Linked DNA regions of Homo sapiens: region 1 is linked to region 2. A link means that fine-mapping ties the variant in region 2 to the expression of a gene that starts in the linked region. Tissue or cell type: whole blood. Region 2 holds a variant in brackets; the other region holds the start of a gene. All regions are shown on one strand. Distances are between the middles of the regions.

Evidence for each region. PIP is the estimated chance that this variant, and not a neighbour inherited with it, causes the effect.
Region 1: it holds the start of DCUN1D1, and the variant in region 2 is fine-mapped to the expression of DCUN1D1 in whole blood (TOPMed, PIP above 0.99).

What each region holds. Positions count from the first base shown.
Region 1 is chr3:182,976,387-182,984,442 of GRCh38, forward strand. DCUN1D1 (defective in cullin neddylation 1 domain containing 1) reads right to left here and starts at 4,152. Exons shown (of 7, transcript NM_020640.4): 1 at 4,101-4,152. The coding sequence starts at 4,103. LOC105374246 (a long non-coding RNA gene) reads left to right here and starts at 4,421. Exons shown (of 2, transcript XR_924771.2): 1 at 4,421-5,101. RefSeq lists silencers at 3,821-3,940, 4,001-4,440.
Region 2 is chr3:183,029,679-183,036,866 of GRCh38, forward strand. It overlaps MCCC1 (methylcrotonyl-CoA carboxylase subunit 1), which reads right to left. Exons shown (of 19, transcript NM_020166.5): 14 at 4,313-4,399. LOC124906309 (a long non-coding RNA gene) reads right to left here and starts at 4,306. Exons shown (of 2, transcript XR_007096188.1): 1 at 1,552-4,306; 2 at 906-1,493. The variant C/T (reference allele first, on the strand shown) is at 4,577.

The sequences.
Region 1 (8,056 bases), 53 kb before region 2:
CCTAGGCCTCATCTGCTCCAACGACCCCCTGTATATACACATGTACATATACATACATACACACACACACACACACACACACACACACACACACACACACACTGCTCCAGCCACATTGGTCTCACTGTTCCTCAAGATTTCTACATTTCTGCATGGCTTATTCCCTCATCCCCTACTCTGTTCAAAATTATCTCATTGGTGATACAGATATTTAGCAACCCTACTTCCATCAATGCCCTAGCACCCCCAATCCCCTTCCCTAACACTGCTTTCTCCCACAGCACTTAACACCTTCTAACATAGTAAAGAAGAAAACTATATACTATGTTTATTATTTATGTCTCCCTACTAAAAGGTACCCCTCACCAGAGTGAGGATTTTTGTCTCTTCTGTGATATATACATCCCTTCAGTGCCTAACACTATCTCTAGCACACAGCAGACGTATAATAATCACTGAAAAGAACTGATAACCTCCTTTATTTGTAGACATGCAAAGAATGTGCAACAAGTTATGAAAAGACAACCTTGAATAGACCTACATGTATTTGAATTTACAAATTCTAGTATTTGTTGACAACATAATCTTAAATTTCAAAGTTCATATATATTTAAAGCCATTGAAAACATAGGCATTAACATCATTGATCACCCATTAATATGAATTTTGTTACTTAACATATTCATAAATAACATGGGGTTTCCTGTGTTTAAGTGATGGATATGATTTAATTTCAAATGTAATTTTCTGGATTTCATATGAGTTAACAGATAATACTGGGGGAAATGGTAGACCAGGAGAAAATAGTTTCAGTTCTGCAACCAACAATCCTGCAAACCTGAACCTCAAAACCTCCTTGATATTCAATTTCTTCTTGTGTAAAAATGGGGAGGAGTAATTAGATGATCTCTGAGTCTATTTCAGGTCTAAAAATTCTATGATGCTATGAGTCTAAAAATCATTAGAATCATAAAATGTCTATGCTGGATGAAACTTTAGAAATCATCAAGTCCAATCCTGCCATCTTATAAATAAAACAACCCACACGTTTTGAACACTTTTTTTTTTTTGAGACGGAGTCTCGCTCTCGCCCAGGCTGGAGTGCAATGACGCGATCTCGGCTCACTGCAACCTCCTCCTCTGGGTTCCAGTGATTCTCCCGCCTCAGCCTCCTGAGTAGCTGAGACTACAGGCCCCCACCACCACGCCTGGCTAATTTTTGTATTTTTAGTAGAGACGGGGTTTCACCGTATTGGCCAGGCTGGTCTCAAACTCTTGACCTTGTGATCCGCCCACCTTGGCCTCCCAAAGTGCTGGGATTACAGGCGTGAGCCACTGCACTCAGCCGAACACTTTTTAAAAATATGTTTCAGGCTGGCGTGGTGGCTCACGCCTGTAATCCTAGCACCTTGGGCGGCCGAGGCAGGTGGATCACCTGAAGTCAAGAGTTCGAGACCAGCCAGGTCAACATAGTGAAACCTCGTCTCTACTAAAAATACAAAAATCAGCCGGGTATGTTGGCGGGCACCTATAATCCCAGCTACTTGGGAGGCTTAGGCTGGAGAATCGCTTGAACCCAGGAGGCACGGGTTGCAGTGAGCCAAGATTGCACCACTGCACTCCAGCCTGGGCAACAGAGCAAAAACTCCATCTCAAAAAAAAAAAAACAACAACAACAAAAAACAAGTTCCAAAGTAACAGAATATTATCTAATTTTGGAGTCGTTTTTAGTCTGTGTGTGGGGGGAGGGAGGAAGTTAACAGAACTTTTTTACTTATACAAAGTATTTCAAATATCCCATCATTTAAGTTTGCTCTAGAACTGACAATAACATGTGCTCTGGAAATGGGCTGCAGCTACAGACACCAAAAAACTCACAGCCCCGAAACTGCATAAAGAAACAAATATATGTAAGATAACTTTATAATGAAACAACTTCTTAACTATAAAATTCTTACTGCCTAACTTCGATTAGGGCCAGTGGTGAGTCTCTTTCCTTTCTTATTATTTTTTTTAAGAGACAAGGTCTGTTAGCCAGGCTGGAGTGGTGCAGTGGCAGGGCTCACAGCAGCCTCAACCTCCCAGCTCAAGTAATCCTCCCACCTCATCCTCTGGAGTAGGGGCAACCACAGGCTAGCACCAGCATGCTTGGCTATTTTTTTTCCTTGGGATGGAGTCTCACTACTATGTTGCGCAGGCTGGTCTCAAACTCCTAGGCTCTCAAGCAATCCTCCTGCTTCGGTGACCCAGGGTGCTGGGATTACAGGCATGAGCCACCGTGCCCAGCCCCTACGGTGAGTTAGCTAAACCAGAGAATATCACGACAATTCTCATGACATAAACTGAGTTCAGCCACAGGATATGTTTTAAATTAATATCTTGTCACCACTGGTAGAATTACATGGGTTATGGCTAAGTTTCAAAACTAGCTAATTTTAATATTAACCAAAAGAATAGAAGCTTACAAGCTGAACTCTCCCTACGAACCACTTGATGCCTGAATTCCTGAACAGGTGATGAGTATTTCCGGGACCCCACTGTCTAGGGGATGATGCGGATCTGGAGACCATCCTGAAGAGCACACATTTCAGCTGTGGCTGAGTGTTTCCCAGGGAATTAACGTCATTACTTCGAGCTTACTATACTTATCTAAATGCTAAGAGTCTGGAAACTTCAGGAGTAATGTCTATGACCATCTAAATACTTAAGAAACTAGAAACTGTTTAGACTGCCTGGTGGATCTCTGAACACTGTAATACTAATCTATACATTAACCTGCACTTTAAAGTTTTCTTACCAATTCAAACTGTAAATTCCTACACAACTTGCCACAGAACATAAGTGTTAAATATGTGTCAGACTAAACCATATATCCATACATGACAACAAAATACTGCCAAGCTGGAGGATGGGACTAGAAGTGTCATTCAGCAAAAATAAGACCAACTAAAAACAAAGACACTGGAGCATTCCCTTAACACAGGCGCGCACACACACCCTCCTCAAAGAGGCCTTTATGTTCCCCACGAGCAAAGGACAACAATATCATTTTTACTATTCATACAGTAACCTGCACGGAATTCAACTCACGCTCAGACTGTACAATGCCAAACAGCGCTTCTGAAACGCGAAGAGCGTCCAGCAGAGTCAGGTACTTAATTACCAAAGTAAACAACTCGACCACAAGGGTCTGCAAGCCTGGAGAGGACTTTTTCCCCCCCCCAAACAAAAAAGGAGAGTAACTTGACAAACTGTTTTAAAAAAAATCACAAATGGCCCTTAACTACTATAATAAAGCAATTACTCCTCCCACCCCCAAGCAAATAAAATAGGTGCTCGAAAGGGCGCTCGCTAGTCTGTGTTCCCTAATTTTATGAAATGAGAACAGGTTGCACTTCCGTACCCCCTCCCCCAAGCTCAGCAGTCTCCCATGTTTTCAGTAGAGAGGTAAATATAACCTCCACCAACTGGCCGGGGAAACTCTCCTTCTCCAAAAGCATGGGACGCCTCGAGAGGTGATGGAGAAAGGAAAAGGGCTGATACCCCGCCCCAAGCAAAACTGCCTGGGAGACTTGCGGGGTATTGGAGCCGGGAGCGGAGGAGGGAGAGGCGCGCCGGGAAAGTCTTTCCTTCTCCCCGGCCGGGCGGAGAGGGAAGCCCCGGCTTCGGGGCGGGGGGAGGCTACTCACCCGGAACCCCAGACCCCAGTCCCCGACCAGACACAATGGAGCCGGCAGAGGGGCAGGGGCAAGGCCGTTGCCCCCTCCCCTCCCCCCGCCCCAACGCCTCCCCCACCCGCGCCGGGCCCCGGCAAGGGGCACCGGGGCCGCTCCCCGCGCCCCAAACTCCCCGGGGCTCCCGACTAGGCCCGGCTCCGCTCCGCCTCCTCGGCTCTCGCGTAGCGGCTGCGCCCGGGCGGGAAGGGGCGAAGGAGGAAGGGAGAGGCAGGCAGGAGAGCCCCCGCCTGGGAGCGGGACGGAGGCCGCGGGCCGAGGCTCGGGGCTGCAGGGTCGCCGCGGGACGGAGGGCGGCCGGGGCGGGGGTGCGCGGCAGCGCCGGCCCCCAGCCGGCAGGGCGGGCGGGCGGCCGCAGTGCCTCACCATGTTGGTGTCCTCCAGGCCTCTCCCCTCCTCCTCCGGCTCCGCAGCGAATGGACGGCGGCGGCGGCGGCGGCTCCTCTCACGGGCTTGCCCGGCTCCCGCTCATGCGCAGTGCGGGGCGGCCCGGCGCGGCCCGAGGAGGCAGCCCCGGACCTCGGGGAGGCGGAGGGACGGAGGCAGGCGGAGGGCGCCCCGCGCGGGGCTTCCCCCGGGCGCGGGGGTCCCCCGGGGAGTGGGCGGGGGCGGGGGGCGCGGCGGGGGAGGGGCGGGCGACGCAAGCCCTCCGCGCGCCGACATCCTCCTGCCGCGCCGGGCGGTCTCTGGTGGGGGCGCCGGGGGACACCCCACCTCCGTTTCCTACGCGGTTCCTTCCGGACGACCACGGCCGGGTCTACGCAGGCTGGAAGCGGGCACGAGCGGCGGCGGATAAGTTGAGCAGCTGGGGGCGGCTGAAACGGATGGTTGAGGAGCTTCATCCATCCCAGACCTCCCCTCCCCATCAGTATCAAAAAAAGGGAGAAGATAGTGGAAACACCTCCCCCTGCCCCGTGTTTTCTTCTTTTTCCCCCCAATCTCAGTATCAGACCTACATCAGTTCCCTCGCGTGGGCATCCCAGGGGAGACCTTAGTCCCCCCCCTGCGGTGGCTGTCACTCCATTAGTGAGGACCAGGCTCTCCCCAGACCTGTCTACTGGGAGACAGTTGGGGTAACCCTATAGTGAGATGGGGTGGGGTGCACTGAGACCCAAGGCCGGGCTGCGGGAGTCCAGGTTGCCTGCCTACTGCTAGCTCTCAGTATCCCCTCAGTTCGGCCCGCCCAGGATAAGTTTCGGGAAGCAACTACACATTTTTTCACTGAGGGTCTAGTCACGCAGGGCGGACAGTCCAGGTGTGACCTGCCCTGGGCGTTAAATCAACTGAGGCTGAGGAGCACTAGGATTCTGAGCTGAGGATCAAGTGGACAAATTCGTGCTGCAAGGAGGACAGAAGACTCCTGTGGAGTAAGTGGTCCTTGCCCTTCAGAAATGTAGTATCCAGTTGGAGAGATAAGACACCTTCACACAGGAAGGAAATAAAACAGCTAAGAAAGCAAACTCACTCAGAAAGTCACATCTGAAACTGTACCAAGAGCTTACCTACGTTTCAGAACAGGACCCACCTGAGTAGACCCGTTATCACCATCATCACCAGCACAGGCATTAAACGACCAGATCAACCCTATAACTAATGAATTTGTTCTTACCAAAACAACAGAACTTCTTTGGTAACTCCCAAAGGCCTCCTAACTTCCTGGAGCTAGCCATGTACTGGGAGCGCCCAGCGCTGTACCAAGGCAGGTTTCTGGCGGCCACAAACCGTTCATCCATTCTTTCCCCCAATATTTAAAGAATGCATGTGAATGTGCCAAGCTCCTTGCTGGGCTCTGGGTAAATAGTCCTGCAAGGAGAAGCCAGATCTGCCTCATGCAGCAAGCCTGAAACTGGACTACATCCACGGAGGTTCTCCAGGAATTCACCTAGCTTTTGACCTAAAGTATTAACACCTAGGGCGTTAATGAGGAGGATTCACTGTATCTCTTACTCCAATCTGTTCTACTCCATTGAAATAATCGTTTGTGGGTTTTCCTAAGCTCTACCAAGGTACAGGCCTTAGTTATTCTAATTGACCTCTCGCCTGCGTTTGGACACTTCCTCCTTGAATTTCCTGTTCATTTTCCATGACTCCACCTTCTCCTGCATCTCCTCTTTACTCTGACCACTCTCCTTTGCTGGCTGTACTCAATTTAGGCTTTCCTGACCATTCCTGAACGTCCTTCTGTATACAGCCTGTGTCACGCTGTCACTCACATTCCCACGTCAACTACTGCCCATATCAAGAGGAATCTCAAATCTTGACTTCCAGTCCCCAAGTGACAGGCCTAAACACTCATTCTGGTCATTTCACAGGTCCATCAAGCTCACCAAATCTAAAACTTTATCCCCAAACCCACTTTTCCTCCTGCCTTTTATCAAATCATCCAAACTAGAAATCTAAGAATCATCCACCACTCTTCCTGCCTCATCCCCTTACTCCGCATCTCACCAGTTTTCCCTCCTAAATGACTTTTAAATCTGCACCCTGCCTTCTATTTCTTAGCCAATTCTTTTTGTTGTTGTATTTTTTTGTTTGTTTTTGAGATGGAGTCTAGTTCTGTCACCCAGGCTGGAGTACAATGGCGCAATCTCAGCTCACTGCAACCTCCGCCTCCCAGGTTCAAGCGATTCTCCTGTCTCAGCCCCCACCGAGTAGCTGGGATTACAGATGTGTGCCACCATGCCCAGCTACTTTTTGCATTTTTAATAGAAACAGGGTTTCACCATGTTTGTCAGGCTGGTCTCGAACTCCTGACCTCATGATCTGCCCCACCTCGGTCTCCCAAAGTACTGGGATCACAGGCGTGAGCCACCGCGCCTGGCCAGCCAATTCTTTATCATCTCTCCTCATCAGTAACTTCTTACCTAATCTTCCAGCCTCTACTCCTTCTCCACTGCTCCATAGTTGTCTTTCTATAATGCAAATGTGAATTTGTCCGTAAAATTCTCCAAGAGCTGCATAAGCATGAGCCTCTGGAATGGCATTAAAGTTCTCTCCTCTGATCTATCCATTCCCATTGCCATTTTCCACCACCCTCCACCCAAATGCACCTCATATTTCAGTTTTCACAAACCAAGACTGCCATACCTCTGCATGTTTCCTTGCTTTCTCCAATTCTCCTATCCCTGGCCTCCTAGCTAATACTGACTGAGCCCATGACACATACTAATTTATGTAATCCTCACTGCGACACATACTAACTCATATAACCTCACTTCTACCCTATGAGCATGCCCAGCTATTACGCCCATCCTACAAAGGGGAAAATGGAAGCACAGAGAGATTAAATAATATGCCTAAAATTCCCTAGCTAGGCCAGGCGCAGTGGCTCACGCCTGTAATCCCAGCACTTGGGGATGCCAAGGCGGGCAGATAACTTAAGTTCAGGAGTTCGAGACCAGCCTGGCCAACATGGCGAAATCCCATCTCTACTAAAATTAACCGGGCATGGTTGCGCATGCCTGCAATCCCAGCTAGTCCGGAGGCTGAGGCAGGAGAATCGCTTGAACCCTGGAGGCAGAGGTTGCAGTGAGCTGAGATCGCGCCACTGCACTCCAGCCTGGGCAAGAAGAATGAGATTCCACCTCAAAGAAAAAAAAAAAGAGATTCCCTAGCTAGCAAGTAGCAGAGCTAGGATTTGAAACCTGATAGTCTGGCTATCTGGTTAGTCTATTCTCTTGATTACCACATTATATTTCCCACCAAGATCTCAGTACTCAACTCAAAGACCATCTTCTCTATGATTGTCTCCTGACCTGATCCTTGGATTCCAGCAGTTAGGCAAGTTTCTCCCCACACCTTACATATACTTTTGTTACACTTATGACATTCATATGATAAGCATTTGCCAACATGACCATCTCCCCTGCCAGACTGCACTGCTTAAGGTCAGAGACCTGGTTGCACAATTCTTTGAGTTTTCAGTGTCAAAGTGAGTGCCTGACATATATGTGCTACATAGTCACAGTGGGATAAATTAATGAAAAGAAAGAGATATGTAACTGATGTCTGTCTTAAGACAGTGCCTATATTGTTTGTTATTGTAAAGGAATGCTTGTTCTCCTTGGCAGATGTATGTTATACCATATGGTCAGATGGTAAATGTAGTAGCAACTGTATCCATTACTGTACTTCCTGGCTACAGTACTGAATGTGAAATGGAGAATTATTACTCAATCATCATGATTGGGTGAGATAAACATATTTGTTAAAATTGTCCTGATTATTTTTTAAATGGAAAAGCATCCTGAAGATAAAGTATAAATTACAATATTTAACAAAATAATATTAACTAATATTCTCGTATTACTTTTTTTGTCATG
Region 2 (7,188 bases):
TCTGGCATCTTATTTTTTTTTCCTTTTTAAAAATTTTTATTTTATAAATAGGGACAGTTACTACAAAGCTGCCAAATTCTTCCCTATCCTATGCATCTCTTCCTTCCATTCCTACTGCTCTACCCTGCCTCAGGCCCCACTGCCTCAGGCCTGGCTGAATCTGAGGAGGTCCTCTGGGGTCTTCCTGCTTCTCATCTCAATAGTCAGAGCTGATGTTCCGACCCCATTCCAAATACTTGGCCTGATATTGGAGGCCCCACCCTCTCAGTCTTATTTCCTACCATTCTCCTCCATGGACGGCCTGATGCTCCACCCAAATAGGAAAGTGGGACAATTAACATTCTCTAGGCCTGGGGAGGTGGCTCACACCTGTAATCCCAGTACTTTGGGAGGCCGAGGTGGGCGGATAGCCTGAGGTCAGGAATTCGAGACCAGCCTGGCCAACATGGTGAAACCCCATCTCTACTAAAAACACAAAAATTAGCTGGGCATGGTGGCACACACCTGTAGTCCCAGCTACTTGGGAGGCTGAGGCAGGAGAATCGCTTGAACCCGGGAGGCAGAAGTTGCAGTGAGCCGAGATCATACCACGGCACTCCTGCCTGGGCAACAGAATGAGAGACTCCGTCTCAAAACAAAACACAAAAAACCAATACACACAAAAAAAATTCCCCATATATGCCCCCAGCTTTCCCTGCACTGTGGCTCTGTGCTCACGCTTCTCCTTCACTACGCTGCTGGTGCCCTGCCACAGCACAGAAACCCCATTGCCCATTCACATCAGCCTCACTGTCCTTGGGAAGAGTTGGCCTGGGCAGCTTAATTTCTCCCTCCTCTGAACATTTAGCCTTCTGCATACAAAACACCCACTATGATTCTCTCCTCATCCTGGTTTACAAAGAGTGATTTTCCTCTCTATCAGTTGTTTCAGAAAAATTATCAAAATAAAAATGTTCACAAAAGTCAAATACTAAAGTACAGGAACTCCAGGGCCCGCACTCTTGACCATCATGCTCTCCAGCTTCTCAACATACACACTTCCAAATGGCAAATTCCTTAACAGAAAAAAAGCAGGGACAAAGACATTTCCTTCTCTTCTCCACATCACTTGGCATATCTATTTTATCAAAAACTTTGTATTGAATGTATGAATGAATAAAACTCTCCACCCTATATCATGTCAACAGGCTTTTACTCTTCTTATCAGAAAGTGCCTCCAGTTACACCACGGCCATTTTCTTTGAATTTATAAAATACGACATGTATTTAACTGGCGCGAATGCCAACAGATCACAGTAAAGACACTACCAAAAAAACTCCTACCCTAGATATCTCTTGTCACATATAAGAGGACCTTAAACATCCTCTCATGCATTTAAGAAGGTATCAAGTGTGGCACCTGCAGTATTAGGTCAGCACGTGTATCCTGGAGTGTGGGTTCAAACCCTGACTCCACCAATAACTTCTGGTGTGACTTTTGGAAAATTACTAATCTCTCTGAGCCTTGACCTTGGCTCACAGAGATTAGTAATTTATAAAGTTCACACTAACAATAACACTAATCTCATTGGCCTTTTCTGAAAATGCAAATGAAACAATCTTTGGAAAGTGTTTAATACAGTATCTGACATAAACCAAAAACTCAATAAATCTTAGCTATTATCATTGAGTTTAGGCAGGGTTCTGTGAAACGTGGCCTCTAGTAGCAAAGTAAGAATAGCTTGCAAGCCTTGAATACTTAAAATAGTTGGTCATTCTCACTGTGGTCACTAGAAGTTGCTTCTGCTTTGGACTCATAAATGCTTCTGGCACCTTTTTTTTTTTTTTTTTTTTTTTTGGGACAGGGTCCCGCTCTGTCGCCCAGGCTGGAGTGCAGTGGTGCAATCTCGGCTCACTGCAAGCTCCACCTCCCAGGTTCATGCCATTCTCCTGCCTCAGCCTCCTGAGTAGCTGGGACTACAGGCGCCCACCACCATGCCTGGCTAATTTTTTGTACTTTTTAGGAGAGACAGGGTTTCACCATGTTAGCCAGGATGGTCTCCATCTCCTGACCTCGTGATCCACCTGCCTCAGCCTCCCAAAGTGCTGGGGTTACGGGTGGGAGATACCGTGCCTGGCACTTCTGGTATCTTTTTTTTTTTTTTTCCTTTTTAAAAATTTTTATTTTATAAATAGGGACAGGATCTCACTATGTCACCTAGGCTGATCTCAAACTCCTGCCCTCAAGCAATCCTCCCGCCTTGGCCTCCCAAAGTGCTGAGATTACAGGTGTGAGCCACTGTGACCAGCCTGGTCTCTTAAGCTTCCTGTTTCATGCATTCTATTTAATTGTGGTCATTGCTTATTAGCATTTTTTGGAGACTTAGCTATGTATCATTTTCTGAAAGCTCTTACATACAGACTTGGATTATTTTCATAGAATACTGCCAAAAGGGTGTAGTGAACAGCAATCATGTTGGCTTTTCAATTATGTATTTATTTTTTCATGAAAACTTTTTTTAATTCCAAAAAATGCAACATACTTCAAATCAGTGCTTGGTGCTTTAGTGAAGAGCCATGCCAAATAACACAGTTGGCCTATATGAATTACAATCAAATATGTAATTCTTCTGTTCAATTCAGGTTGAAGAAGCCAGTGAAACTTTACCGCTTTTGATATTTGCATTCAGCATATAGGAGTCTAGAATAAGATACTTCCAGATTTGGGGGGTTGTATTTTTTAGGATGAAATGAGCATAAATGGATGGGTTAACCATTTGCAGAATGCTACTATATAAAGATGTTTACAAATTTTCATTATAAAGGCTTAACAATATGCCCAATGCACTTAAGATAATGACCATCTAGGCTCAGGATTGAAAAATAACTGAAGAGCTGTAACCCAATAAACTTGTGTGAACAAAATATTTGTTACTGGCTGGCATGGTGGCTCACGCCTGTAATCCCAGCACTTTGGGAGGCTGAGGTGAGTGGATCATAAGGTCAGGAGATCGAGACTATCCTGGCTAAAATGGTGAAACCCTGTCTCTACTAAAAATACAAAAACTTAGCCGGGCGTGGTGGTGGGTGCCTGTAGTCTCAGATACTCGGGAGGCTGAGGCATGAGAATGGCACGAACCCAGGAGGTGGAGCTTGCAGTGAGCCAAGATCGTGCCACTGCACTCCAGCCTGGGCAACAGAGCCAGAGTCTGTGTCAAAAAAAAAAAAAAAAAAATTTGTTACTGGGTGAGTGTCTTCATAGAGGTGAAGTAAAAGAGATTTTCCTCTGTCCAAGGAAGAGCGTTCTGTGATCAGCTGGTGAAAGTATTCTGCTCTACCTGGGAGGCATATTTTTATACCAGAACTGTCACAGTTCAATGACATGTCACATTCAAGGTTAGCCAGGATTCTGAGCTCTGACTCTGCCCATTGGGCCTCCCACACAAACTGTCTCACAGCAGAAGGGATACAGTGACCAGCTATCATAGAATTCTGGTCCTGCTGCTACACTGCTCCAGCCAAAAGTTTATAAACTGCCTTCTGGCTTAAGCGTCAGCCTCTTTTGACATCAGTTAAAGAAAATCAGTCACTAAGTCGAGCCAACTCAAATTAGTTTACAATCAAAAATCAATTTTCTACTGGAAAAGTGGTGGAAACAGCCTAAGAGTCAATGTCACAAAGAGTAGGTGTGAATCCTAGTTCTGCCACTCACTAGCCTTGACTAAACTACTTCACTTCTGTGCCTTACCATCCATGCTTTCATCTTCCATACGTGGGTATAACAGCGACTCCCCCTCATTTACGTTGTGAAGATAAAAACTTACATCAGATAAGGCACTTAATAAATTACAGCTCTGCAGTGACCCACTTCCACCTGAAACCCCTGAAACACTGCATGGGCAGTGGGTAATCGTCCCTCTCTGACATAGTTTTGAAAACTGTTTTTCTTATTTAAAAGTAATACATTCTCGCTGCAGAAAAATTGCAAAGCAAAAAAAAAAGTACAAAGAATTGGGGAAAAAGAGGTTTTTTTGGGCATATTTCTAACATTCTGGCATATTTCATTTCAGCTGTTTTGCTATGTTTATTTTATGACATATTTTTAGAATATTTACAAAATTTTTAAAAAGTGTAAAGAAGAAAAGCAAATACCATCAACTCTACTACCCAGAGCCAATCAATTCTATTATATTGGCATATTTCCCTCCAATGTTTAGCCTAGGCATTTAAAAAATGTAACTGACTGATCATGGCCAGGCTGGAATCCTCTTTTTCAGATTAATGTGATACATTTCTATGACTCACATTTCTCTTTTAATGAAACATTACTTACTGTTTTTACCATCTTTAAGAGTCATGTTTCTGGTATACGAGATATTCAGTCTTCTTCCACTGCTAGACGAAAATGGAGAGAATTGATCTAGAAAAAATTTAAAATTCAGTAACAAACTTATGAGTATCAAGCCTATGAAATTTACACCTTACAAAAGAAAACATAAAATGCAAGTGCTGGCCGGGCACAGTGGCTCATGCCTGTAATCCCAGCACTTTGGGAGGCCAAGGCGGGCGGATCATGAGGTCAGGAGATCGAGACCAT[C/T]CTAGCTAACACGGTGAAACCCCGTCTCTACTAAAAATACAAAAAAATTAGCTGGGCATGGTGACGGGCGCCTCTAGTCCCAGCTACTCTGGAGGCTGAGGCAGGAGAATGGCGTGAATCCGGGAGGTGGAGCTTGCAGTGAGCCAAGATTGCGCCACTGCACCGGATCCAGCCTGGGCGACAGAGCAAGACTCCGTCTCAAAAAAAAAAAAAAACAAAAAAACACACGTCCTAAACTGGCAGCTCAGATGTGCTTTTTTTGTTCTTCTTGTTAAGTTTAAAGGGCTGGTTTTGTTTACATCTTATGAAATTTCATGTGAAAAATTCTAGCTTCTATTGAAGAATCTGAATATTTGCAATCTAAACTCTAATCCCATAGTGGCATAAACTGTACCACAGTCACCACCTTTTGATGGGGCAAATTCATTCCAGGTCACCAGTCTCTACTATTCACTATTTTTCTTTCACCTGGCCTCTTTTACTCTTTTATGTTTTTATGTTGTTGGCCCAGCCCTTATAGGCCTTTTTTTTTTTTCTTTTTTGAGACGAGTCTCGTTCTGTCGCCCAGGATGGAGTGCAGTGGCATGATCTTGGCTCACTGCAACCTCCACCTCCTGGGTTCAAGTGATTCTCCTGCCTCAGCCTCCAGAGTAGCTGGGATTACAGGTGGGTGCCACCACAGCTGGCTAACTTTTCTATTTTTAGTGGAGATGGGGTTTCACCATGTTGGCCAGGCTGGTCTCAAACTCCTGACCTTAAGTGATCCACCCGCCCTGGGCCTCTCAAAGTGTTGGGATTACAGGCATGAGCCACCGCGCCTGGCCCCTTATAGGCATTTGGGTGTATATCCTCTATTGGACAATATCCAGGAGCTTCAGCATAGCTAAGCTGATGCAATTTATTCTGAACCTCATATCTGTACCAATTATAAACTTTCAAAAGGAAGGTCACAGTAAGACAACGTTCCATTCTAAAAACGTTAAGGTCAGGCTCAGGAATACCACATGGGACGTATTTAGATGCATTTTCATTCAATGTAAAAGGATAAAATGAGGATAGAGCACAAATCTTCTAAAGATGCAGTTTTCGGGACTTAAAACATTTTACATTTTAAGCTTTCCATACAGCTATCTTGAATGAATCTAAATGAATTCAGAAATTAAAGATTCTAATGATAGGATCCTATAATAATACGGGTTCAGTATCACTTACCCAAAATGCTTGGGACCAGAAGTGTTTTGAATTTCAGATTTTTTTTTTTTTTTTTGGATTTTGGATTATTTGCATTATATTTAACTGGCTTAGCATCCCTGATCCAAGTATCTGGAATCTGAACTGTTCCAATGAGCATTTCCTTTGAGCATCATGTTAGTGCTGAAAAAGCTTCCGATTCTGGAGCATTTTGGATTTGGGGATTTGGGATGCTCAAACTGTATAGGGTAATATAATAATTACCAATAAAAGAGAAAAATAGATCAGATTTTTAAAAATTCTGTTTGCTCCGAAAGTCAGAGCTAGCCTGAAATGCAAAAAGTATGTGAGAGCTGAGATTTTGTATCAATTTAAAGGGCAGAACTTTTTTTTTTTAATACTTTAAGTTCTAGGGTACATGTGCACAAGGTGCAGGTTTGTTACATATGTATACATGTGTCATGTTGGTGTGCTGCACCTATTAACTCGTCATTTACATTAGGTATATCTCCTAATGCTATCCCTCCCCCCTCCCCCCACCCCACGACAGGCCCCGGTGTGTGATGTTCCCCACCCTGTGTCCAAGTGATCTCATTGTTCAATTCCCACCTATGAGTGAGAACATGCGGTGTTTGGTTTAAAGGCAGAACTTTCTAATGGAGAACTGACTGAAACTGTAAGCTACCTGATGAGGTAATGAACTTCCAGTTTCCCAAGGTGTTAGGAAGAAGTTGGGCAACAGCTTAGTGGGTGTGCTGGGGTAGGGATGCAATGCATATGTGTGGTAGCCAGGATGAACCCCACTATGGCCCTTCCTATGCTTGGATTCTATGACACTATGAAGTCTCTAGGTAGACATTCAATCACAGGATGGAAAAAGCGGAAGTAATTCGACAATAAGTCATGGGTAACCCTGGGGAATCTAAGTCTCCAGTCTTAGATTGTCTTGAGACTCTGGGACAAAGGGAGTTGCTGCAGGTACAGAGGACAAAACAAAGTAGGGCTATGAGGAGTGGCGAACAAAAGAAGTGATAAGAAATTAGTGTAGGATGTGGGGAGAACAAGTGTTTGACTGAAAAGAGATCCATTTCCTTTTTTTTTTTTTTTTTTTTTAGATGAACTCTCGCCCTGTTGTCCAGGCTGGAGTGCAGTGGCGCGATCTCGGTTCACTGCAACCTCCGCCTCCCGGGTTCAAGCGATTCTCTTGTCTCAGCCTCCCGAGTAGCTGGGACTACAGGTGCGTGCCACCACACCCAGCTTATTTTTTGTATTTTTAGTAGAGACAGGGTTTCACCATGTTAGCCAGGATGGTCTTGATCTCCTGACATCATGATCCGCCCACCCTGGCCTTCTAAAGTGCTGGGATCACAGGCACGTGCCACCACGCCCAGCTAATTTTTTGTATTTTTAGTAGAGATGGG